Regions from separate parts of the Homo sapiens genome. Here all the other regions are linked to region 1. The links come from fine-mapping of genetic effects on gene expression. A gene starts in region 1. Each other region holds a variant in brackets. All regions are shown on one strand. Distances are from middle to middle. Region 1 holds the start of PLXND1 (plexin D1). Region 2 overlaps PLXND1 (plexin D1). Region 3 overlaps TMCC1 (transmembrane and coiled-coil domain family 1).

Region 1 (8,151 bases):
GCCTGCTCACAGCCTTCGCACAGGCTGCTCCCTTTGCCTGGATGCCTTTCCTCTTCTCCGGCCTCACCTGGCTTCCTCCTGCTCCTCCGCCCCCTCCGCTGGGCTCCCTCCACCCTCATTCTCCCTTTGCGGCACGCATTGCCCTGTGTATAAGGGCCTGGTCACACATCCGTCCTCGGCTCACCTGCCCAGCCCACAAGAGTAGAAACAAAGTGAGTTGCCATTGGCTCCCCAGGGCACAGCATGGGACTGGGCTCACAATAGGGACTTAGTAAATGTCTATGGAGGTGTCATCTGGGGCTAGAAGTAGGAGATGGTGGGGTGTTTACAGCTGCAGAACAAGCCAGATTAGGCAACTGCTCTCCAGGACCAAGCAGAGACCTGTGCTAATAATGTCCCTTAGAGTAATAACAAGAAGAACTGCCATCTGCTTGGTGCTTACTGTGTACTGGGTACACTGAGCTGCATTTATCGATTCATCTAGTCCTTAAAACAATGCTTTGGGATAAGGATTGCTTTTACTGTCCCCACTTCACAGATGAAGAAACTGAGGCCCAGAGAGGTTAAGTTCCTTGGCCAAGGTCACACAGCTGGGAAGTGACAAAGTGGGACTTGAACCCAAGCAGCCTGATGCAAAGTCTAGGTTCTGAATCTGTCGCTGCATAGCTGGCAACAGCCTGGAGCAAGAATAATGATCCCTCCCCCACCCCTGCCCATGCTAGAGGCCCAGACCGGGGACCTTGAGCACCTCTGGGAGATACTGCCAAGTGGCACTGGCCTGTGCCCACAGCGGGCACGGCGAAGAGGAGAAGGGTGTGGAAAACACAGGGAGGGTGACCAAGGAAGGCCGCAGCCGGAATCTGTGGCCTTGGGGTGGGGAAGAGGCCCTTCGCCACTCTGTCCTGGGGCTGTGTCCCTGGAGAGGCCCTGTCCCCTTAGGTAGAGAAGCTCCAGCCCCCCTCAGCTGGGTGAGTCACTGCACCGAGGGAGCGGACCGTGGGAACCAGAATGGTTCTTGCCAGAGGGGGAGGGAACCCTGGGCTGGCCTAAGGAATCCCACAGATCAGCTTACACCAAAGGGCCGAGACACAGGGCCTGAAACTACTGGAGGAAGGCCCTCAGTCCACAGGACACTTCTCTCCATTCAGCGACTCCCCACTGAGACCCCCAGTGCCAAACACAGTTGCCTGCGAGATGAAGCTCTGGGGTGGAGATGGTGGATGAACCAACCATGGCACAGGGCAAGCAGCCCCACCACCCTTTGGACTGTCTGCCCTGCTCACCCACCGTGACCTTTACTTTCAGGGTGGCCGGCCAGATGGTGGGCAGTCGTGGGAGACCGACCTCGACCTTGGGAGAAGGAATCTGCATTTTCTCAAAGCCCCAGTGTTGGGCCCGCCCACAGAGGAATGGTTAATCTCATGAAATTCTTGTCACAGCCATGGAGAAGGGACAGGGTGGGGCCCCAAGGAAGGCTTGGGTCACCACAAGAAGGCTGAGTTCTGCATTTTGCTGATGGAGATGCAGCTTCCTAAGGGAATGGCAGGCAGTGGAGCTGAAGTGGGCTCGCCAGACTCAGATGGGTGGAGGGTGTGGGAAAGGCCCCAGTGTCATTCTGGGGCCTCATTCCTCAGGGTGAACTATGGGGATCAACAGACCCAGCTCCCAAAGCCAGTGTGAGGAGCAATCCCTTGCCATGAACTTCCTTTCAGGGAACCACACCAAGTCCCCTCCCGCACCCTTGTCATGTCAACACACATGCTGATTCCGTCAACCTGGCCCCCCTTGCTACTGCCCAACCCAGCCTCAGACACCTGGGCCCCATGCCTGCCTGTACTCCTCCTCATTCCCCACTGAGCCCCACGGCCCTCTCCTGCCCCCAAAACACCCCTGTTCACATCCCTCCATTCTCCTGGCCCTGGCATCTGCCCACCCCAGCTGCCTGGGACGCCCCCAAAACACACGCACTCTGAGATCCAAGTCCAGAAGGCAGCAAAGGCTGGGCATTAAAAACACAGATGCTGAGGCCAGACAGGCTGGATTCAAATCCACCTCTGCTAGTGCCCAACTGTGTGATCCTCAGCAAGTTGCTTAACCTCTCTGTGCCTGTTTCTTCATCTGTAAAATGTGATGAGAATAGAGGCTACCTGAGAGGGTTGTTCTGAGAACTGGGAATTGTGACATGTGATGCCCCTAGCTGGCACTCCACAAGTGCTATTGTTTACCCCAGACTCCCACACCTGGTACATACTAGGTGCTCAGGAAATATTTGCAGAATAGGTGAATAAAAGTTGGCCTCAGGCACACACCTGTTTGCCAACCATGCAGCCTCCTCAGAGTACCGACTCATGCCCAAATACCTGCGTCCCCTGCCACGCACATCCCACTGCACACCTAGCCCTGTCCCGTTGTACCAGTGTCTGTGCAGTACACCTGTCTGCCCTGTGCGTCTTCAGGCCCCAGCTTGCTGGCACACAAGTCCATGCAGACATCTGCAGGGCCCTGGTGCACACCTGTGTGCCTCCTTGCACACCTGCCACACCCATGCACCCATCACCAACGTGCAATGGTAACTCTGACAGGCTCACGCAGTGGCCCCAGAACACAACTTTGGTCAGGCATGCAGTCACTTACTGCGCCCTCAGCATGCACCTGTGACCCTCACGTGCATACCTGGGCTTTATGCGCACCTGGGTACCTGTGGCAACTTGGACCCCTCCCAGTACGCCTAGGTATGCGCGCCCATGAGCCGGCACTCACTTGAGTCCCTGCACATGCCCACCTGGGCCATACAGGCGCCAGTAGTACCCCTCGGGGGACACCTGTATTCTCGCGTGCACACCTGGGTTCCACGTACATCTGGATCTCTGCGCGCTCCCACCTGTGACCCACTCAGCTCACGACCCGCTCGGTTCCCGCCCGCCCCCGCCCCCGCCCCCGCCGCCGCCGCCGCCGCCGCCGCCGCCACCGCCCGGGTGTACCTGGATGTTGAGCTTGCGCTCACAGGCCGGTCCCGTGCCCTGCACCACGCTGTCGAGCACCGCCACCACGTCGGGCGCCGGTTCCACGAAGCAGGCGGTGCGCGCAGCTCGGATGGCGGCTCGCACGTCGGCGAAGCGGAAGGCGCAGAGTGCGGCCGGAGCAGCGCGGGCCGCGGGGGACCCCTGGGGCCGCTCGAAGACAGCAAAGAGCCGCTCCCGGGCTGGGAAGACCGACACCAGGCGGCTGTAGAGGTCGCCGCGGCCCGCGCCGCCCGCGCACTGCAAGCCCAACTGGATGTAGGACTCGGTGAGCTTCTTGGCGTCGCCGCCGGCGCCGTGGGGCAGGCAGATGCGCGCCAGCAGGCTCCGCGCCTGGCTCTCCTTGTCGCCCGCGCGCGCCTCGCTGTTGAGCGCCAGGTACGCGTAGGACTGTGCACCCGGCGGCGGGTCGGACGGGTGCAGGAAGGCGCTCACGAAGCCCAGCTTGTGCTGCTCCTTGGCGCCCTGCTTGATCTTGAGGATGTTGTCGTCGGAGGGGTTGAGGTCGAAGGTGAAGAGCTTGGCCAGGTCGCCGCGCGTGTCCAGGGAGCGGATGGCGATCTCGGGCGTGTTCTCGAAGCGGTGGTCCTCCAGGCTGCGGTTGCGCGGGAAGAAGGAGCTGCCGTAACCGGTGTACGTGGCGCCCACGAGCAGGCGGCTGCCCCCCGCGCCCGCGGCGGGAGGCAGAACTAGCCCCACGGTGGACGCGTTCGGGTGGTTGGCCGCCACGTTCAGCATGCTGGGGAACACCGTGACGGGCTCGGCGGGCGGCGCGGCGGGCGGGAAGCGCACGGCCACGGCCGAGATGTTGCCCCGGCGCCGCAGCTGGCAGAAGCCCTGGTAGATGGACCCGCACACGACTACCAGGCCCTGGCCGGGGTCCAGCTGCAGGATCTTGTTGTAGTTGTCCGTGAGGCGCCGCGGGTGCTCGCACGAGGCCTGCGGCAGCTGCGGAGCGTGACACAGCGGGCTGTCGGGCACCGGGCCCACGGCCGCCTCGGCCTCCAGGCTCAGGTTGGCGCCCGACAGCTGATAGAGGCGGTTGACGGCCGCCAGGTACACGGTCCCCGCCGCGCCGTCCAGGGCGAAGTTGTTGGTGGGCGTGGGCGAGGGGAACCGACGCTGGATCTCCAGGGCGCCGGCCCGCGCCGCCCCCAGGAGCAGCAGCAACAGCAGCGGCACCGGGCACCGCGGCGGCGTCTGGAACGGCGGGGGGCTGGCGGCGGCGGCCCGGGCGCTAAGGGGTGCGCCGCCCGCGGCGCGAGGAGCCATCCGGGCGTGCGCGGGCTGCGCGGCGCGGCGAGTGCATGGGGCGAGGCGCGGCCGGGAGCCGGGAGCCCGGAGGCGGCGGGAGGCGGGGGGCGGGCCCGGGCCGCGATGCGCTTCCTGCCCGCGCCAGCCGCCCCCGACCCCGGCGCCCGGGCCCGGGTCAGCCTCGCCGCGCAGCCCGGGGGCGGGGCGGGGGCGGCTCCGCTGCGGACACGCCCTCACTCCCCGCCCCGGCCCCGCCCGCCCCCGGGACCCCCGCCTGCCCCTGGCCGCCCTGGGCCACGCCCCGCCGTCCGCGGGTCCCGCCGCCCGCGCCCTCCAGGACCCGCCCGCGGCCCCAGGGTCCCTCCCCGTAGCCGCCGCCGCCGTCGCTCGCTCTCCTCGCTCTTTCCTCCCACTTGGCCGCTTGGCCTGCCTCGCTCGCGCCTGTTTTCTCTTTTCCGCCCTCTCCCCCACCCCGTCTCTCCCTCTCTCTGCGTCTCTCGGTCTCTGCGTCTCTCCGTCTCTGTCCCCACCCCAAACTCCGCGCGTGTGGCGCTTCTCCGGGTTCTGCCTCTGCTTCTCCTTCTCCCTCCGACTCCGCTTCGCTCTCCAGTCCCTGGCAGCCCCGCCCCCGGCCCTTTCTAGTCTCCTTCTCTCTCCTGCTCCGTTTTTCCGTCCCTGACGCTCGCTCCCTCTCTCCGTGGCTCCCTCTGCCTCCCCCTCGGACCCTCCGTCCCTCTCTCGGTCCCTCTGAGCTCCCCTTTCCTTCTCCCTCTGCCTTCCCGAACCCTGTGTCTCCCCTCCACACTCAGCCTCCCTCCACCACCTTTCTCAGGCACTGTCCAGGCCTTCGCTCCCCCGGTGCCGGCCAGTCGGGCCCCCCAGACCCCATAATCTGTCCCCCAAACCCCAGACCCATAAAAGGGATTTACAAGTGGCAGGGCCAGAGGGACCAGTGCTCAGGGTCAGATATATAAATGAGGAAAACATGGAGAGAGGAAATAGTTCCAGCCAGTGGCCCACAACCGATAGCCAGAGCAAGGCCTTGGTCCTGGAGCCCACAGTTGCCTCCTGTGGAGACCCAGCCGCACCCCCACCCCTGGCACCCCCGCCAGGCACTTTCCCTGACATCCTCCCAGGCTTAGTGGAAGATTAGTCCCACAAAAGCCGGCACTGGGCAGGGTTCTTGATCTCAAAAGCAGCGTTAGGGGCAGGCAGCCTGGTTCCAAGGTCACAGCCCTGTGAGGACCATGCGCCGTGGCTGTTTTGCGGGGGTGCTCACACAGGGCTAGCCCGTGCCAGACACTGTGCCAAGCACTTGCCATGTACGGGCTCTCTTTTTCCTCACAGATTCCCCCGAGGCGAGCGCTATTGGTAACCCATCTTCCAGATATGGAAACCAAGGCTGAGGGGAAGGGACTGGCCCAAGATGCACAGCTCATGAGGAGCAGAGCTACAGTGTTTGAAAGCAAAAGCCCTTCAGCTCCGACCTCTCAGAACGGGGCCTCCCATCAGACCCCCAGCTTCCACAGGGTGCCCGGTGGGCCTCACTCTGAGAGTAGCGGGACCTCATTTTCCTCTTTCCCACCCAACCAGGAAGGAAGGGCAGGGGTGTCTGTGCACCATGGGGCCGGCAGGAAAGGCTGGGCCTGCAGCCGCCCCCCACTTCCCTCAACACCCTCGCCTTCCTGCCATCCTGCCCGCCTTGTTCCAGACCCCTCAGCCCTGGTCTGGCCACTGCTTTGATGGCCGGGAGTGTTGAGCTGCAGGAAATTGGAGGCCCCCTCCCAGGCCCATCCACCCACCAAGAGCCACTCAGGGGACTGCCCGTGGGACTGTGTCCCTGTCTTCCTCTCTGGATGGAGAAGGCGCACATCGTGCCACCCGTGGGGGCCAACTGCAGAGCCCAGCAGGGGTGCATGGGGCCTGCCTCCATGCCCCTCCTCCTCACTCACATCCTCAGTGCCCCCACCCCAGTCCATCCGCTGGTCTCTCTGTCTTATCTCTCTCTCTCCTGCCCCCACCCATCTCTGTTCCTATCTGTCTTGCTCCTCCCGTTCACTCTCTTTGTCTCTCCTTCTCTCAGTGTCTTGCCCCCTTCCCTTTCCACTCTTCATCTGTCTCTCTGTGTCTCTATCTCTGTCTCTCTCTCTGTCTCCCTCCCTATCCCTCACCCCCACTCCCTCTCCAGCCCCTCCTCTCTTCCTTCCTGTCTCCCGCTCATCTGGTTCATCTTGCTGCATCCTGCAGCTCCCCCCACTGAGCCGTGAGGATAATGCTCAGTGTTGTCTTAGACCAGCCTGTGGTGATGATCCTGGGCACTTGGGACACAAGCTCCCTGCCAAGCTGAGCAGTGGGGTTTAGGAGCTCTCTAGGTGAAGGGTATTCGGGTCTGAGTATCCTCACATCAACTGGAGGTGAGAAGTGCTGTGTGGTCTTGTGCAAGGCACTCACCCTCTCTGAGCCTCAGTTTCCTCAACTGTAAAATGAGGACAATCGTAGCAGAACACCTGCCCCTGGGAGGGTGTGAGATGGAGAATATAACATAACAGGTGTCAAGCACAACAAGGCTCTTAGCAAACACCAGTTTCTCCCCGCCTTGTGGCAGTGAACCATGACCCCTGAAGCCCATGTTAGAGCCAGGAGTTGGGGTGGGGGGCATTGCAACTAAAGACCAGGGCTCCACCTCCTGTCCTGAGCCCCAATGTGGCTAGCAGAGCCACCAGACGGTGAGAGTGAATCCTGTGCCCAGCACTGCCCTACCAGATCTTACACCATCCTTGCAGCCAGCTGACTAGGCTGTGGTCAGCAAACCCATTTCACAGATGGGGAAACTGAGGGGCATTAGCAAGGTAAGGATTGAAACCCAGATCTGGCTCCACATCTTATGATTTCTCCCTTCTACCCATTAGCTGGGAGCACCATCAGGCCAGGATGGCTCATGGTGGCAGCCCCTATACCCCTGGCTGGGCAGAGGAGGTGCTGACAATTACTGGCTGAATGAATGAATAAAGGAAGGAACAAACCACACCTTCCCTGGCCTTACTAAGATGCAATGAGGTGTTCTTCCAGAGGGAATTTTGGAGGGAACCAAGGGGAGATGAAAGGTACTCAGGAGTGGGGATTAGGTGGGACCCAGCAATAACTAACTTGGAATGAACTAACCCAGAATAGCCAGACCTAGTTGGTTATTCACACTGCAATTTGGGCCTTTTTCAGTTTTTGTTCAAGTCTGATTATATCAAGGAAAAGGTCTTGGTTTGAGGCTAACATGTCTTTAATGACTGTAACATTTGTCACTGTCTCTTTTTAATAGAGAGAAGGTCTCAAACTCAGGGCTGTTGACATCAGCGTGCTAGAATGTACTGATAGCGCTTTGTTTTCTTTGTACTTGCCGTTACTTTCTGGTTTTGGCAAGTGCTACTGGTTTTCCATGTACAGTAATGATGTAAAGCTTCCTTGATAAATGCATTGATTGAAGTCCTTTAAAAGTGAGTTAAAGACAAATGTGAAATAGGTGATAATCCAGATGCCACCAAAATGCCTGAAATTTGGGAAATGTCCAGCAGTGCCTTTGAAGACGAGGACCTGGTGGCCGAGTCAGGGCAGTCTTGCTTGGGGCACGGTGGTCAACGGCTATGCTGGCTCGGAGAAGGCGGGCCTGGGCCTTCCACCCCACTGGGTGGGCTTCCCACCCTGTCCTGTCCATTCTCACCTCTGACTGCCCAGGGCAGAGCTGTGAGGAGACAGAGGAAATGTTTTTCTTCTTCAATTGGAAAAAATAACAGTGGGGCCAGGGTTGCGCTGGGAGGAGGGGGCTCCTGCCCTCCCGTCCCTTGGGCCTGGCCTCTGAGAACGTTTCCTTGCAGGAAATGCCCCT
Region 2 (8,151 bases), 50 kb before region 1:
TAATTTCTGGGCCCCACCTTAAGGCAGCTTCTACTTCTTGTGTTTGAGGACACTTTTTGTTTTGTGATACTCACTCTTCAAACTTGGCCACCACTCTATGGGAAAGCCCATGCAGCTTGTGGAGAGGAACTGAGGACTCCATTTTTCAGCTCCTGCTGAACTCTCTGACCAGCTGGTACCACGTGCCACCATCTGAATGCGTGTTGGAACTGCATCTTCCAGCCCTAATTGAGCTGGCCCAGCAGAAACCTGGTGGAACAGGGACAAGCCTTTCCTGCCAAGCCCTGCCCTGATTGCAGATTCGTGGGCAAAATAAGTGACTGCTGTTATTTTAAGCCACTAGGTACTGGGGTGGTGTGTCCCATAGCAATATATCTTTCTAAACAGATCCCCTTCCTTTCACTGGAACAAGGGCTGCAGGGTAGATGGCGGCTGGATCACGCAGGGCCTTGTAAGCCAAGGGCAAGCACGGTGGGCTTTGTCATAAGGAACCATTAGAGGACGGCAAGCAACAGAGTCTCTGCAGGGATGTGGGCGGGCAGACAGGCCTGTGAGGAGGCTCCTGCCACAACCCAGATGAAGGGGGTGGTGACCAGCCAGGACATGCTCACAGAGGGAGGGTTAGAAGTGGTAGCTTCTGGATCGCTGTTGAAGATGGTGTGAACGGGCTCTGCTGATGGATTGGATGTAGGAAGGGTCACTGATGAGTCAGTCCACAATTTGGGGTCTAGATAGCTAAGTGACTGCTGGGTGACCATTTCCTGAGGTGAGGACTTGGCACGTGCCAGGAGGCTGCCGAGATATGGTCCTGATGAGAGGTGGCAGCCTAGCCACGGAGGACAGAGAGAAGGAAGGGGTGGACTAAAGGGAGTCAGAGGCAAACTGCACAGGACTTGAGAAGGGGGCAGACGGGGCACAAAGGGAAGCAGGCTGCTCAGCATGGGGCATCAGCTGCTCCCTTCCTGCCCCTGCTCCACCACCCCACCCTCTCCTCCTGGAATCCCGGCTTTGCCTAGATGTGCTGACAGCCCCCCTGGGGTGTCTGTAATGTGGCTGCCAGCAGGACCCAGAAGGGCACCCAGAGCAGATGGTGGGATGGGGCCGGGCTGGTGCTTCCTGAGGAGGGGTCTGCTCCTGCCACTGCTCATTCACGGCTTGGCCCAGTGCTGTGGCACCCCCAGGCAGCCTGCAGTGCGGGGGGCATCAGTGGGCATCTCACGTCCATGAGCTGGGGACAGGGGTGGGGGGTGTCTAGCATCCATGAAACCTTGGGCAAGTTACCTCCCTTAGCTGCAATGGTTTCTTTCCTTTTCAAAGGAGTTTAGTTTAAGGATGCTACATCAGGGGTCCCTAGCCTCCTATGACCCTCAAAGGGTAGGAACCTCCCTCCTGCCCACAGCTGCCAGGTCCTCAGAGCCCCAGATAAGGATTATAATTGGTTCATGGAAGGTGGCCACCTTCTGCGCTGAGAAACGACTCTGGAAACTAGAGATTTCCTCCATTTGCAAATACATTTCTAAACGTCAAGGAGGAACTGAATGTTAATCAGACATTAAGACAGGCTGTGGAATATTTAATGACATAGAAAGATGTTACTGACATATTGTCGCATGGGGGAAAATCAGGTTGCAAAATGGTGTGCACACCCTGATCCTGAGTTCACTCCTCGGCCCCGCCCCATCCAAGCGCCCCGTGCGGCTGGCGTTCTCAGAGACGCTCGCCACAAACGGTTAGGGCAGCTTTTATTTTCTTCACGCTTTTTGTGCTTCCTACATTTCTCTGGGAACCGTGTATTCATTCCAGAATCACACCCACCCCCCTCACCCTCAAAATGCTATCAAATGTGCTGATAACTTAAATTAGAAAATCTGCTGCTTAATAAGAAGGAATCAATGCTCAGAATAGAAAATGTGAAAGATAAAGACTATCTCTCCACACAGAAGCCACTGTAGGAAAAAGCTATTTTTAAAGCAAAAGGTTGTTTACTGTTCTCACTTTTCTGTTCTCATTAATTTTAGAACTGGTATTTGTGGGATTTTGTTTAAATTTTATGAATCTTTTGTCCTAGTTCTTACTCTTGATAAATACATGTGTAACTATTTTTCCTTCAAAAAAGCAAGAAATTAAGTGGAGTTGCTGTACCTTTGGAGCTGGCTCTCGAGATCTTTCCCTGGGGTTGGAGAGGAGCCAGCAGGGCTGGAAAGGGGTGTCTGCATCAGGTTCATTGTTCTTGTGGGCAGGGGTGAGGAACAGCCTGTACTTGTGGGGAACAGCGTTTAGGGTTAAACTGGGCTTGGGGGTTAAACTGCCTGCTTCCTTGTCTGAGAAATGAGCTTAATGCTACGTATTTTTTAAGCTTGATGAGAAATTCGGGGTAAGTTAAGTGTCAGTTCCCTTTCCAGGGTGGTCACCTTTGGCCTCCCCGCCCATTTTGGGGACCACTGTGGAGACTCTGGCCCGGAAGGACCATGGGACCTGGTCCTTATTCTGTCCCTTCCTGGTTGTGTGACCTTGAGAATTGCTTCAGCTGTGCTGAGCCTCAAGTTGCTGCGTCTGTCATACAGGGATGCTAGCACATTCCTGACGGGCTTGTTAGAGATGAGGTTAGGAGCAGGGCCCACCCAGTTGCAGGCAGCACACAGCAGCTGTGAAATCTTCCTGGAGGTCCCGGGGTGTCCTCAGAGCTTAAGGAATGGCAGCTCTGGGCCGGGCCCACAGCATGCATGCAGCCTGCACCGTCTCGTTTCATCTCCTGGCCTCTGACTGCCTTCTCAGAAGCTAGTCAGGTGTCTGCCCAAACCTCAAGAGTGCAGCTGAGACAGGAGGGACGGCAGGCTCCCTCCCTCCTCTCTCTCACAAACTGGTAAAGAAACTGCCCATTCTCCCGCTTGGCTATCTCAGGACAAAGGCTGGAGCCCACAGTAGGTTTGTCCGTAAGGCTTTTATTATAAAGAAGATTCCAGAGTCCCAGCTGCCCCCCTCCAGCCCCCATGGGCTCTGAGCCAGTCCCAACACTGGCTGAGTTGGCTGCGAGGGGCCCGCATGGCCCATCGGCCACAGAGGGTCGTTTCTGGCAGGAACGGAGTGGGTGGTAGTCTCAGGCGCCAGGGGCGCTCTGCCAGGTCTGCCCGCTCTCTGGAACAGTCATTTCCAGTGTTGCATGGGGAGCCTCTCGGGACCCCTCCCCGGGTCCTCTGCGCAAGCGGCAGCTATTCACAGTTGGTGCATGATACGTTTTTTAATATATAAAAGCTTTAAAAAAAAAAGTGGTGCTATCTTTAGAAACACTTTCAGCAAGATCAAGTAGCCCAGCTACAGCCT[C/T]GGTGCATCTTAACCCCTCTCCTTTTCCTGGAGACGGGGCTCCCAGCTCCTGTGCCCCCCATCCCTCCCCTCCACCCTCCCTGCTCCTGGAGAAGCCCACAGAGCACCCCATGGCGCGGGCACTGCCCACTCTACCAACAGCCGCCCAAGCAACAAAAATCTGACACTACTTGAAACTGTCTGTGGCCAGGATCCTCTACGGGTGAGGGGGAAGTGGAGATAACATTTTGGTAGTTGAAGCAGAAACCAATCAAAGGTCAGTTCAAGGAGGGCTCCCTGCACCAGTGTGGATGAGGTAGAGTTTCTGGGCTGCAGCCTCCGGGCTGGCGGCCTCCTCTCCCCCAGTTTGTGCTTGGCCGCCTGGATGCACGGGGCTCTTGGCAGCAGGACCAACTGGACGTTGTGGAGCAAGTGGGTGGGCACAGTGCAGGCCGTGCTGGGCAGATGGGGGAGCCTGACCAGCTCTCTGGCCTCCATCCCAGAGACTGATCTGGGGACAGGTGGGAGGGGATGGAGGTGCCCAGGGGTCAAGGCGGGGGCGCCCCTGTCTCAGAGAGCAGCCCCTCCTCCTGCCCCCGCCCCAGCCGTCTCTGCTCAGTATTTCCCAGTCTGAGTCACAGGCACGGGGTAGAAGATCAAGTTGAGGCCCAGTGGGCGTCCATTTCTCCCAGCAGCAGCCTGACCAACTCTCCATGTGTCTCAGGCCTCACTGTAGCACTCGTAGATGTTGTCCTCCATCAAAGCCACCACCTGCTCAAACTTGTGCTGCAGTTGTGTCCTCCGGGCCGTGGGGTTGGCCTCCAGCGCGGCCATGATCTGAGGGGAGCAGCGGAGTCAGCCGGGCCATGGCCGGTAGCCCTGCCTCAGTTCGTGGGAGAGAACACACCCCTGAACGTCTACCACGAGTGACATCCGTCCATTAGGGGCAAGCACCCTGAGATGTGTGTCCTTGAGTAGGAAGCTCACCTACCCCGAGGGCAGGTGCCTCACCCTGGGGCACTCACCTGCGGCCGATACCTCTTGGCGTACTTATAAATCTCTGCCATGGCCACATTGGTGTTGAACTCATTCTGGTATTTCTATAAGGAGGCAGGATGGGGAGGAGGTTAGCCCAGCGGTCAAAGCTGAGCCTAGTCCCAGCAAAGCCAGCTGCTTGCACACAATCCCCAACTCCCCACGGCCCCCACAGAACAGTTCAGCGATGAGGCCCCTCAAGTCCCATGGACGAAGACGGCTTCCCGGACCCTGAAGTCCAATCTCCTCTCCATCCAGAGGGTGCTCTCCTGCCCCCGCTCCTCAAACTCTGGGAAAATGCATGACGAATTTGCAGGCCAGCAAGAGGCCACAGCCACTTCTGAAATGCCCTCTGCGCTCCCTGCCCTTACTCCAGTGGAGGCATTGAGGCCCAGCCCCCGACCCCCGATCCCTCAGCTCTTCAGGCCCCCATCCCCCGCCGCCGAGCCACCGCACCCTCGACTCCTCGGCCAGATGGGCATTCATCTCTTGCTCGCTGAGCGGCGTCATGTCCTGGATCTGCTTGTAGTAGCGCTGCACGATCTTCCGGTACTCAGGAATCTCCTTGGCGTAGAGGAGCTTGTTGGTTGGCGAATCCTGGGCAGAGAAGAGCGAGGGTGTTAGATGGCTGCTGGAGAAAGGACGGATCTGGTCGTTTTCTGGATGAGCCCTCATCCCTCCTGCCACATAAGTGACCTTAGCAGGCCCCCGAGGCCCAAAGAGTCTCACCCGGTCACTGAACGTCCCCGCACTCAGCCGGCCCCAGACCAGGGGCTCCTCACTGTGCTCTGTCTGCCCCGCCTACTTTCCCCAGGACTGTTAGGACAATGATGTGGGTGGGGAGGGGCCCTACTTCTTTCAGGGGAAAAGTGCACGGGCATGCCAGCTCTTCACTGCACGCAGCCCATTCCACGTAACAAGGATGTGTCCTTCTCAGGGTGATAGGTCTTGGTGGCTAGGATTCCTGGAAGCCTGAGTGCTGGCTCAGTGGAATATTTCCCACCACATGCTCCTAACGCCTGAAAGAAGTGCCAAGAACACTCCCAGTTCTTTGTCAGTCACGGGCACCCTGCCTTCGGAGGCAGTACGTGAGTAGTAGTGGAGCGATGGCATTTTCTCCTTCCCGTGGTCCGTCTCTGAAATGCGTGGGCTAAATGCAGGGTCACACACGACCTGGACCAATCCTGCAGTGCCAGCTTTAATGATACAATCTCATCCCTGCTCACAGCAACCGGCTGCTTTCCTGCCTCCCTGTCTTTGCCTGCGCCGTTCTCTCTGCCTGGAAGGCCATCCTCTTTCATCTTCAACCTCTAAAGCCAGACACAGCCTTGTGTGCCCCCAACACACCGCATGAATCTCAGAGCTCCTAGCCACCCATCACCCCTCTGCCCACCCCTTCACTGAATGCTCGCTTGAATGGCTTTTGACTTTCAGGGGCTACTGCCCAGAGCCTGGCCCGGTTTTCAGATGATGTTGTGCCTGACCAAGCAGGTTGTCCAAGCTCATACTGGCTTTCCCACACCGGGTTCTCAGGCCTGTGTTCAAAGCCAGTGCCAGGCACAGCTGCAGCATGTGCAGTTGGTCTGCAGCGATACAGAGTTTCTGATGGAAGGTACTGGCTTCTAGGTGTCTCCCTGTCTGAATGAGTCACTCATCCCACATCCCCTAGACCTGAGATCTTTTGGTTCCCCTCCCAGGAAGATCTCTGAGCTCAGCCTCAGAGAGTCGAGGAGGCTACCCATGGTCGGCACCCCACTCTGGCCCTGTGCATGGGCCTGGCCTGGTCCTGGGAACAGCTGACCTTGCCCAGCTGCAGGTCAGAGATGGAGCAGGCGTCGATGAAGGCCTGCGCGATGACTGAAAGGCAGGCGTCGATGTGGTCTGTCTTGTCGATGTCAAAGACAAACTGGGGGTTCTTCAGGATGTTCACCCAGAACCGGAGAGGAAGGCTGTGGGGTAGGGTGACAAAGACAGTGAGGGTAGGGTGGGGTAGGAAGCAGTCGAGGGACAGTTGTGGAGGAGAGAGCTGGCTTTGTCCCTCAAGGGCCTGAGGTTGGAGCCTTGTCACAAGATGTGACCTTTGGGAACCTTAGTTTGCCTATCCCTGGCCAGCTGGGGTGCAGTGGGGCTGAGAGCCCGGTTTCCTGCTGGAGCAAGGCAGGAGCTACAGGGCTTAGCTGTACCCCCCAACCCCCTCCTGAGCCTCCAGTCAGGTCCTGGTTCTCATTAGAACCAGGTGCCGGCCCCCGGGCACCCCTGGCTCCTCCCTGAACCCTTGCAGGCAGCAGGAAGTCCGACATTAGCAGAGCAGCTGTGGCAGGGCTGTGGGGGGCAGGGCCTGGAGCTCTGGCCTTGTCCTCAAGAGGCCAGAGAGGGTGAGCAACACCCCCACCCCCACCTCAGGCCACCCAGTGACTCAGCAGCCTGGGCATGTGTACCCCCAGAGCTCTAGGAAGCTGCTGCCCTGCACAGAGGCGCCTGGGCTGGTGGTATTCTTCCTGAGGGTCAGGCTGGGTTTCCAGCAACTTCTTGTGGGGGTGCATGACCCCGACAAGCTAAGAGGTGCCTCAAAGGAGGGCTACCAACTGGGTAAGAGATTCAGATAATGTAGGGCCGAGCCTGGCTCTACTGTCCCAGGCTGTGTGGTCTTGAGCAGGTGCTGCTTCTCCGAGCCTCAGTGTGCTTATCTGTGAAGTGGAGCTGATGGTGCCCACCTGAGAGGGGTGCGGGAGAATGATAGTAAGGGCAACACCTAGACCATGCTTCTGGGCACTCTTCTAGTTAATTCCCACCATTAACATGGGTCGCATTTTACAGTGGAGGGGAAACTGAAGCACAGAGAGGCTAAGTCACTCATCCGAGAACACACAGCTGGGAAATGGCAGAGGAGGGCTTGACCCCAAGCAGGCGAGGCCAGAAGACTAGACTCTGAACCCCCTGCCACAGGGGCCCCAGTGGCACAGTGAAGTCCACACGGCCCCCCCACCCGCCACCTGTTGGTCTTCCAGATGTGTAGGGTGTCGGGGTCGGAGATTCCCCTCTTCTCAGCCTGCTCCTCCAGGAAGTCGAAAAAGTACTTGACAGCCAGTGGGGGCTTGTCTTCACGGATACTCAGAATGGCCTTGAACAGGTCATCCAGAAACTTCTGCAACGTGCCCTGCGGGGGAGTGGGGTGGCCGCCGTCAGCCCCGGGCCACGTGCAGAGGGCTAGTGGGCACCCTTGGTGGCTCTGCGGAGCTTGAAATGCCAGGCTGCTGAATGAGGAAGCCACATGGCATCAGGCTGGTCACCGAGCCTCTCTGGCTCACTTGCCTCCCAGAGGCGTTGAAAGGACTAATCGAGGCACTGGCACATGGAGTCGAGAACTGGAAGTGCCAGAGTATGGGCTGTGGGGTGCCGGCGCTGCCACTGAGCCACGTGGCCTTGGGGACATCACTGATCCCTCTGGGCCTCTGCTGTACCCTGTTACGTGGGCTAACATAGAAGTCTCTGTCAGGCATTTTTCCTGGCTGTGAGAAATGCCTCCTCAAGTGGGACCCTAAGCCTTCAGCCTCTTGCCCCTCCAGCCCCACAGGGGAAACAGGAAGAACTCACACCCCTCTCCCAGCCGCGGGTGCACAGCTGGCCCTGAGCAATGACCCTCTGGAGCTGGGGCTGGAGCCTTGTACCCACTGCACAGAGGGGAGACTGAGGCCGGACTCACCTTGGTGGAGAGCAGGCGGGTCAGGTAGATTTCCGGGAGCACCTTCTTGCGATGGCTCTGCCGGTGAGACTTCTTGGGCTCCGCCAGCTCGTCCGTAGGCAGCACCTGGGAGG
Region 3 (8,151 bases), 140 kb after region 1:
CTCTTTTCTGTACTTCCTTTCTGGTATGACTCTTAATATATTCCCAAATAATGTTTCCTAACTCATGGGAGTTCTCAACTCAACCACGGGAAGGGTGAGAAGTATGCAAAAAGCTGAGATCAGAGCTATAAAGTACTCAAGAGATGCTTAGTTCCATGACATTGGGAAAGTAACCACAGGCCCTTTATCGGTGGGGTGAGAAGAGTATAAATATGAGAACCAATTCTAAGAAATGATTTTTTCATAGTTCAAAGCAAAGTCTACCTATCTCTACAAGCTGTAATTTATTTTGGCCTCTTGTACTTACCACTGTTCCCCATTGTGACTTCATTACCTCACTGGTCTTCTTTCTTTGACTCCTGAACAAAAATTTCAAAGATTCTAGCACACGTACAGATAAACTATTATTTGACTGGGCTTTACAACATCTAGTTCTGGTACTTATAAGTTAATCAGATAGCATATACCTTTAACCTTATTAACATATGGCACTCTTCCACTTCACATCTGAGATCACCAATCTCAGGACTCATTGCCCCTTTGGAATTATACCTTAAGCTTTCATATGTCTAATATGTCTAATAATTTTAGTCTCATTGCTAGTATCCTATTCCCTTTCCATACCCACCCACCAGGATCTATTATCTTTCAAGCAAAAATCATGGTGATATAAAGAAATCAGGAAGAACTGGATTAGAATCACTGCTGTGTTGACTATGACAGTATAACTTTCATAATTACTGAAAACTGGTTTCTTCATCATCAAAAGGAGGATACAGCATCCCTTACATAATTGTTTTGAATAAAGACACATGTACTATCAGCTGCTACTAGTAGTACTGCACTGAATAATTTCCAAATTTCAAATATAATAATCCCTTCTACCTGTATGGCTGTTTAAAAAGTTTCCAAAGTAATTTGACATTATCTCCATTTTATAAAAGAGAAGATTGAGGCTTGCAAAAGTCCTGCATATGTTAGAGCCTCAGTAAAGGCAAGCTACCATTCAGAAGGCCATGATTTATTCAAGGTCACACACCTAATATAGATTATAATTAGAACTAAGGACTTCTGACTCTTCACTAACAATCTTTCTACTACTTTGCCACTGAGTTAATTGTCTCTAATTCTGTGCTGCTATATTTATTTGAAGGAAATAAAATTATAAATTACATTTTTTATGCTCGATCTCTGCTTTAACTGCTTTCTGTTGGCTTTATCTTATAAATTTAGAGCAGCTCTCATATACTTAAACTTGTCTCCATTTCTCCACACACTTATTATAATCACTGAAGATTCCACAACTTATTAAACAGAAGAGGTTGAGATCATCAGTTATATCTTAACAGACTTCTACCACTACAACTTCATTCTCTAATTCCGTATTTTAACTCTTACTTATATACAACACAGGCAAACACCTCTCTGATTCAAATATCTTATCTTAATCTCATATAATTCACATAATTTATCTAGAAACCAGACTGGAATGCTATCATTTCTGCTATTTAAATTCCTCCTTTAAAGACAATGCTGAAGAATCATTTCCTCTGTCAAGATAACTCACAGGGAAAAGATGAATAGTCTTGATCTTTTGGATGAAAGACCTAAATCTAAAACTCTCGTAAGAAAACATGGATGTAAATCTTTGTGACCTTGAATAGTCAATGAGTCTGTTTGTGTTTTTTTCCTGGTCCTTGATTTAGGATAGGCAGTGGTTTCTCAGATATGACACCAAAAACATAAACAACAAAAGAAAAAAAATAGATATGATCAAAATTAAAAACTGTTATGCTTCAAAGGACACCATTAACAAAGTGAAAAGATAAAAACCACAGAGGAAAGAATCTTGCAAATCATACATCTGATAAGGAACTTGTACACAGAATATATAAAAAATTATAAGTCAAAATTGAAAAGACAATCCAATTACAAAATGGACAGAGGACCTGAACAGACAGTTCTTCCAAGATGATTACAAATGGCCAATAAGCACATAAAAAGATGCTCAGCTCATCATTAACCACCAAGGAAGTGTAAATAAAAATGTGATACTACTTCATACCCACTAGGATGGCTATAAAGACAGATAATAATAACAATTGGTAAGAATGTGCAGAAATTGAAACCCTCATATATTGCTAGTGGTAAAAGGTATGGCATGTTTGGAAAATAGTCTGGCAATTCCCTAAATGATTAATCTACTCCTACATGTATACACCCAGGAGAAATGAATAAATGTTTCCACAGATATTCACAGCAGCGTTATTCATACTGTCCAAAAAGTAGAAACAACATAAATGTCCATCAACTGATAAATGGATAAAATGTGACATATCCACATAATAGAATATGATTTTGCAGTAAGAAATGCATTATGACATGGATAAACCTTCAAAACAATGTGCTAAATAAAAGTAGCCAGATCTGAAGGACCATGTATTACATGTTTCTGGAAAGAAGCCAGCCCCAAAGGACGACATATTGTATGATTCCCTTTATAGAAGATGTCCAGAATAGGCAAATCTATAGGGATAGAAAATAGATTAGTAATTGCCTAGTGCCGGGGGAGAATGGGGAGATTGGGCAGTGATGCCTAAGAGGTATGGGGCTTCCTTTTGAGATAATAAAAATGTTCTAAAATTGTAGTAATGGTTGCACTCTGTGAATCTACTAAAAGCCATGGACTGTATACTTTCAATGGGTGAGGTGTATGGTATAAGAATTATATTTCAAAAAGCTCTTTCTAAAAAGTCACTCCTCCATGAAATATTTCCACAGACGAGTCTCACTTGTCAGTTTCCTCATCTTTGAAGCTTCTTAAGAAAAAATTCTTGGTTGAACCAAGTCTCTGAGGATGATTTGCTTGTAGTTTGTACATCTGAACTTAATGATCAACTAAGAATTCTAGAGGGATTGGGATAAGGAAGGAATTAAACATTCCATAAAAGACTACTTTTGTAGAAAAGTGTCATCTGTACTCCATGGTATCGCCTATGGTAAATCTGTGGAATTAAGCAGCTACCCCTCTATATGTTTATGTGAAGTATTCAGAGCAAAAAATTAAATCACAAAGTGACAAGATAGGGTTGTAGTAACATTATACAAATGGCACCATGGAATATGCATGACTGATACCAGAATTAGAAATACTGATAAAATTGTTATATTACAATGAACCATGGATTCTTTTGGATTAAAAAAAGTCTCTTCATTCTAAACAATTTATGACTTATTTTACTAAAAAGGCTACGATAGCTGGCAAATAAGCTAACCTATCTGCAAAATGCCCATTCCTGCTAAAGAAAAAATTCTTGACCCAGAACTTCAAAAATAAAGTTAACTGAAGTCACAACGTGCTTGATATTTATTAACTCATTTTCCAATCAAGTTTTTAAAAATAACTTCACTGTTTTTTAAAAAAATCAGATTTCTTTTCATTCTGGTAGGTGTCATTTGCCAAGTGCACTTGTTTAAAAAAAAAAAAAAGAGTACAGTCATAATAGTATCTAATGAAGCTGTCCACAGTGAAAAGCCTCTTTAATTTCAGTGACACCTAAGAGTATGATTTTAAAATACTTTCTTTGAAATTATGTAAGTTTCTGGATTAATTCTGACTGATATTGTGTTCCATGTACCAAGTTAGATGCAAAATAGATGCTTACATAGCTGATAAGATATCTGAACCTTACAATTTCACCTTTTAACTTTAATACTGGCACCAAGTTAGAGGTCAAGGAGCTCTGGTAGCAATTTCAAGGGAGGACACAGGAGGATGTCAAAAAGATTGGTTGTCGTAGTTTTTAGAAACCTCAATACAACCCATTTAACTTCACCACTTTCTTTTTCCTTTTCTAGTTTTATTTTTAATATAAACAGACAGGGTCTCACTATGTTGCCCAGGCTGGTCTTGAACTCCTGGGCTCAAGCAATCCTCCTAACTCAGCGTCCGAAAGCACTGGGATTACAGGCGTGAGGCACCGCACCCAGCCTCTTTATTATTTTTTAAGAGATGAGGTCTTGCTATGTTGCCCAGGCTGGTCTCAAACTCCTAGGCTCAAGTGATCCTCCCACCTCAGCCTCTCAAGCAGCTGGAACTACAAGCACACACACCTGTGCCCAGCATAACGTCACCACTTTCTAAAGAAAATAGCATGCATACACACACATATATCACCTTCCTTATCATCACCAAGGTTTC[C/T]AATCATACATATTTAATATATAATGTTAGTATGGTATGATATACAAAGAGTTTCACATATATTTGATATAATCCTCAGAACAGCTCCAGGAGGCAGTTATAATTACTACCACCCTTCACTCAAAGATGAAACTGAGAGGATGAGAAACTTACTCAAGGTAACAAAGCTGAGAGGTAATAAAGAAGGATTTCAAATCCACGGTTTTCAGCTTACAAAGCCTATCTGTGCCTTGAACTATTATGATGCTTTTTGTTAATCATTTAGAGTACATCAAGAATCTTCCTCACTGCTCCACAGAAGGAAAAATTCACAGTTCAGAAAGTTTAAGAGATTTCTCCATTATCACACAATAATAGAGCAATTTCAAGGGGAGATGTAGACATATTGAGTAATAATGGAGAGAATAAAAATTTCTTGTAAGACATGCACTGCACTGTCATGTGCTAAATGAAATTAAACTAGATTTCAAGGTATCAGCTACCATTTCTGGAGGCACTGCTATCTACTAGGAAGATTTTTATTCAAAAGTACAAAAACAAAGAGAAAAAAACTTCGTTACAATTTTAAACATGCACTCACACTTCTTGAAATTCACTCTTCTCTTGGGCTTGTATGATGAGATTATAAAACATTTTGTTGTCATATCCTACACCAACTGTACACCTTCTCTTGTGAGCACAGAGAATAACACCAACAGCTTCTCAGCCACAGTGCTAAACTGAGCGCTTCACTCCGCAGCTCAGCCTGTGCCAAGAGTAGTTTTGCATTTCTCTAAGCCTACTTGTTTCCACAAGAATCCTCCTCTTCAGAGCAAATGCCCTGATGGGAAATGCTGTATGTTTATAGTTGTGATTGCAGCCACTAGGGCTTGTTGCCAGACATTCTGGATCCTAAGGATCTTAGCCACTCTTTCTCCATTTTAGCTGCACAAAGCATGTCCTTCCCAAAGGAGAGAGAGAGAGAAGCCTTTAAATAGACACAGCTGAATCTTTTCTCATTTTAAAAAAGTAAGATGGGACCAGGCATGGTGGCTCACACCTGTAAATCCCAGCACTTTGGGAGGCCGAGGCGGGTGGATCACCTGAAGTCAGGAGTTCGAGACCAGCCTGGCCAACATGGTAAAACCCCGTCTCTACTAAAAATATAAAAAAATTAGCTGAGTGTGGTGGCACCTGCATATAATCCCAGCTACTCGGGAGCCGAGATTGTGCCACTGCACTCCAGCCTGGGCAACACAGTGAGACTCTCCCTAAAAAAAAAAAAGGAAAGAAAAAAAGCCAGATGGGGTCTTTCTTTGTTGCCCACGCTGGTCTCAAACACCTGGCCTTAAGTGATCCTCCCGCCTCAGCCTCCCAAAGTGCTGGGATTACAGACATGAGCCACTGCACCCAGCCCTGAACCTCTTTCCTTTTTCTCTTTTTAAATCCTTGCAAGGAGGGGGGTAAAAAAAACAACTAAGTACCCTTAGAGAGAAATTAATAAATATGCATATAGCTTTAAAAACTGGTTTAATTTTTTTTTTCCTGAGATGGAGTCCTGCTCTTGTTGCCCAGGCTGGAGTGCAGTGGCGTGATCTCAGCTCACTGCAACCTCCACCCCCCAGCTTCAAGTGATTCTCCTGCCTCAGCCTCCTGAGTAGTTGGGACTACAGGCGTGCGCCACCACGCCCAATTCATTTTTGTATTTTTTTTTTTTTTAAGTACAGACGGGGTTTCACCATGTTGGCCAGGATGGTCTTGATCTCTTGACCTCGTGATCCGCCCGCCTCGGCCTCCCAAAGTGCTAGGATTACAGGTTTAGTTTTTTTTAACTATGCAGACTGATGACTACTGTGTAATATAAAGTATTACAAACCATGGTTCTAAATTTGATCCTGCAAGTAAACTTGGTGATAATGAGCCAAGTCACATTTATACTCTGCCTCACTTGTGCATTTGAATAATAGGTGTTTTCCCCTAAAGGTATTGGGTGGCTTAAGGAAATACAATAAACATTGCTAGCATTCTTAAAAGAGCAAATGGAGCAATATAAGGAATATCTGAAATAAATGCATTCTCAATAGTTTAAAATTCCCTATACCTAATTCCCCTATATTCTTTACAAGGTTGGGGTAAGAGTCTGTTGTGTTCAGTATTACATCACCAGCACCCTGTGCAATGCCCTGAACACAGCAGGCACTCCACTGGAGATAAGAGTGTGGAGGAGCAGAAAGAACACCTACTACCTTACTTGGCCTCTTGCTAGTTTTTTAACATTGGGCAACCTTTTTAATCCCAATCTCAGTTTCCTCATCAGCACAACAGGATAATAATTACTTTGTATCATTGTTGGGAGAATAAATCATTGCTGTGAAAATGAATCAATGTATAATAGTACTTTTTCTTCTAGGCATTAAAAGGTATTCAATAAAATGTTAATTCCTCATATATATGAAGACTGATTTAAAACCTACATTTAATTAGGCCACACATGCTCTATTAACGTAAGCTGCAGGAGGATTTCTAAAAATAAACTCAGAGTCCCCTCAGTTACATATATATAAAAAAAAGTTCAACATTTTTTGCATCACAAACCCCTCTGAGAATTTAATGAAAACTATGCATTCTTTCTCCCGAAAAAAAATTCACACACATGCAAATTTACATATAATCCGAGGAAATCCATGGACCATATGGTTCTTTTCAAAGCTCAGCAAAGTCTGGCAACACTTCAGGAGTATATACATAATATTTGGCTCCATTTATAAACTTATATACCTTCATTTTAAGCTATATTGTTTCAAAATTATTTATAAATTACTTCGATAATTTAAAATATTTTAAAATTGAAACAACCACAATATTCCTATCTAATACCACAAGGTTTATTGTAGTTTTCTTCCTTTCCATATTTGGAACTCTCTTATTACTATGAGAAACCTGCTCTCATCACCCTCACTGTATTTATCAATCCCTCTCCTTCCATATGTAACCAATCTTCTATCTCTGCAGCTACCACCTCCCTGGTGTAGATGTCAACCTCATCCCACTTGGGCTCTGAAACTCCACACTAAGGAACTTCACTGCACCATGGATTCCCTTCTCACCCAACATGAATCCGACCCCTTATCATCACGCTGTACAGCTGCACAGACCCATTCCTTCCCCCTCACATCCCCTGGGCTCTGATGTGTCACCTGTCCGTACTCACTCCTTCCCACCCATGTCCTGCAGTAGCAGAAACACACTTTTCTCCTATAGTAATAACTAAGAAAGAACCCTGTAAACTGAATACAATCCAGGAAACTCCTTGGAAATATCTATGAAGAGAACTTGAAGAAAAAAGAACTTTAAACCATTTTCACACAGGATAAGACTTAGAAATATATTATTTTGAATAACTAGGAAAACATGGACTTAATCAGCACTCTTAGCTGAGCAAGTAGGTCATGTTACATACACCTAAAGAAATTTTACCCATATTATCTATAGAGACTCAGTATTCTGTGGCAAACCCAAAGCCAGGTTCAACACTTCCTGTGTCTCAAAACTGTATTGAAATAAACAGCCATGTCATCATGCCACTTCCCTGGTATCTTGCCATTCAGTTCTTGCCTGCTACATATGGGTAAATGGATGAGATTTGGGTTTTTGTTGTTGTTGTTGTTTTGAGAGGGAGTCTCGCTCTGTAGCCAAGGCTGGAGTGGCATAATCTCGGCTCACTGCAACCTCTGCCTCCCAGGCTCAAGCGATTCTCCTGGCTCAGCCTCCCAAGTAGCGGGGATTACAGGCGCCTGCCATCATGCCCGGCTAATTTTTGTATTTTTAGGAGAGACAGGGTTTTACCATGTTGGCCAGGCTGGTCTCGAACTCCTGACCTCAGGCAATCCACCTGCCTCAGCCTCCCAAAGTGCTGGGATTACAGGTGTGAGCCACTGCGCTTGGCCTTGTTGTTTTTTAAAGTGCCAACC

What was found. PIP is the estimated chance that this variant, and not a neighbour inherited with it, causes the effect.
Region 2: its variant is the best candidate, but not a certain one, in a credible set for the expression of PLXND1 in lung (TOPMed, PIP 0.51).
Region 3: its variant is the best candidate, but not a certain one, in a credible set for the expression of PLXND1 in whole blood (INTERVAL, PIP 0.66).

Annotation. Positions count from the first base shown.
Region 1 is chr3:129,602,348-129,610,498 of GRCh38, forward strand. It overlaps PLXND1 (plexin D1), which reads right to left and starts at 4,329. Exons shown (of 36, transcript NM_015103.3): 1 at 2,982-4,329. The coding sequence starts at 4,292. LOC124909431 (a long non-coding RNA gene) reads right to left here. Exons shown (of 2, transcript XR_007096079.1): 2 at 7,531-8,007. RefSeq lists enhancers at 588-1,580, 2,573-3,565, 4,558-5,550, 5,551-6,541 and silencers at 859-1,153, 4,288-4,347, 4,498-4,657.
Region 2 is chr3:129,552,292-129,560,442 of GRCh38, forward strand. It overlaps PLXND1 (plexin D1), which reads right to left. Exons shown (of 36, transcript NM_015103.3): 31 at 8,039-8,143; 32 at 7,329-7,492; 33 at 6,137-6,284; 34 at 4,792-4,932; 35 at 4,326-4,400; 36 at 2,923-4,137. The coding sequence ends at 4,021. Among named protein-coding and RNA genes, the nearest start is that of H1-8, 13 kb to the left of the region's middle. RefSeq lists enhancers at 6,020-6,909, 6,475-6,769. The variant C/T (reference allele first, on the strand shown) is at 3,322.
Region 3 is chr3:129,740,461-129,748,611 of GRCh38, forward strand. All of the region lies in intron 4 of TMCC1 (transmembrane and coiled-coil domain family 1), which reads right to left. Among named protein-coding and RNA genes, the nearest start is that of PLXND1, 140 kb to the left of the region's middle. The variant C/T (reference allele first, on the strand shown) is at 4,202.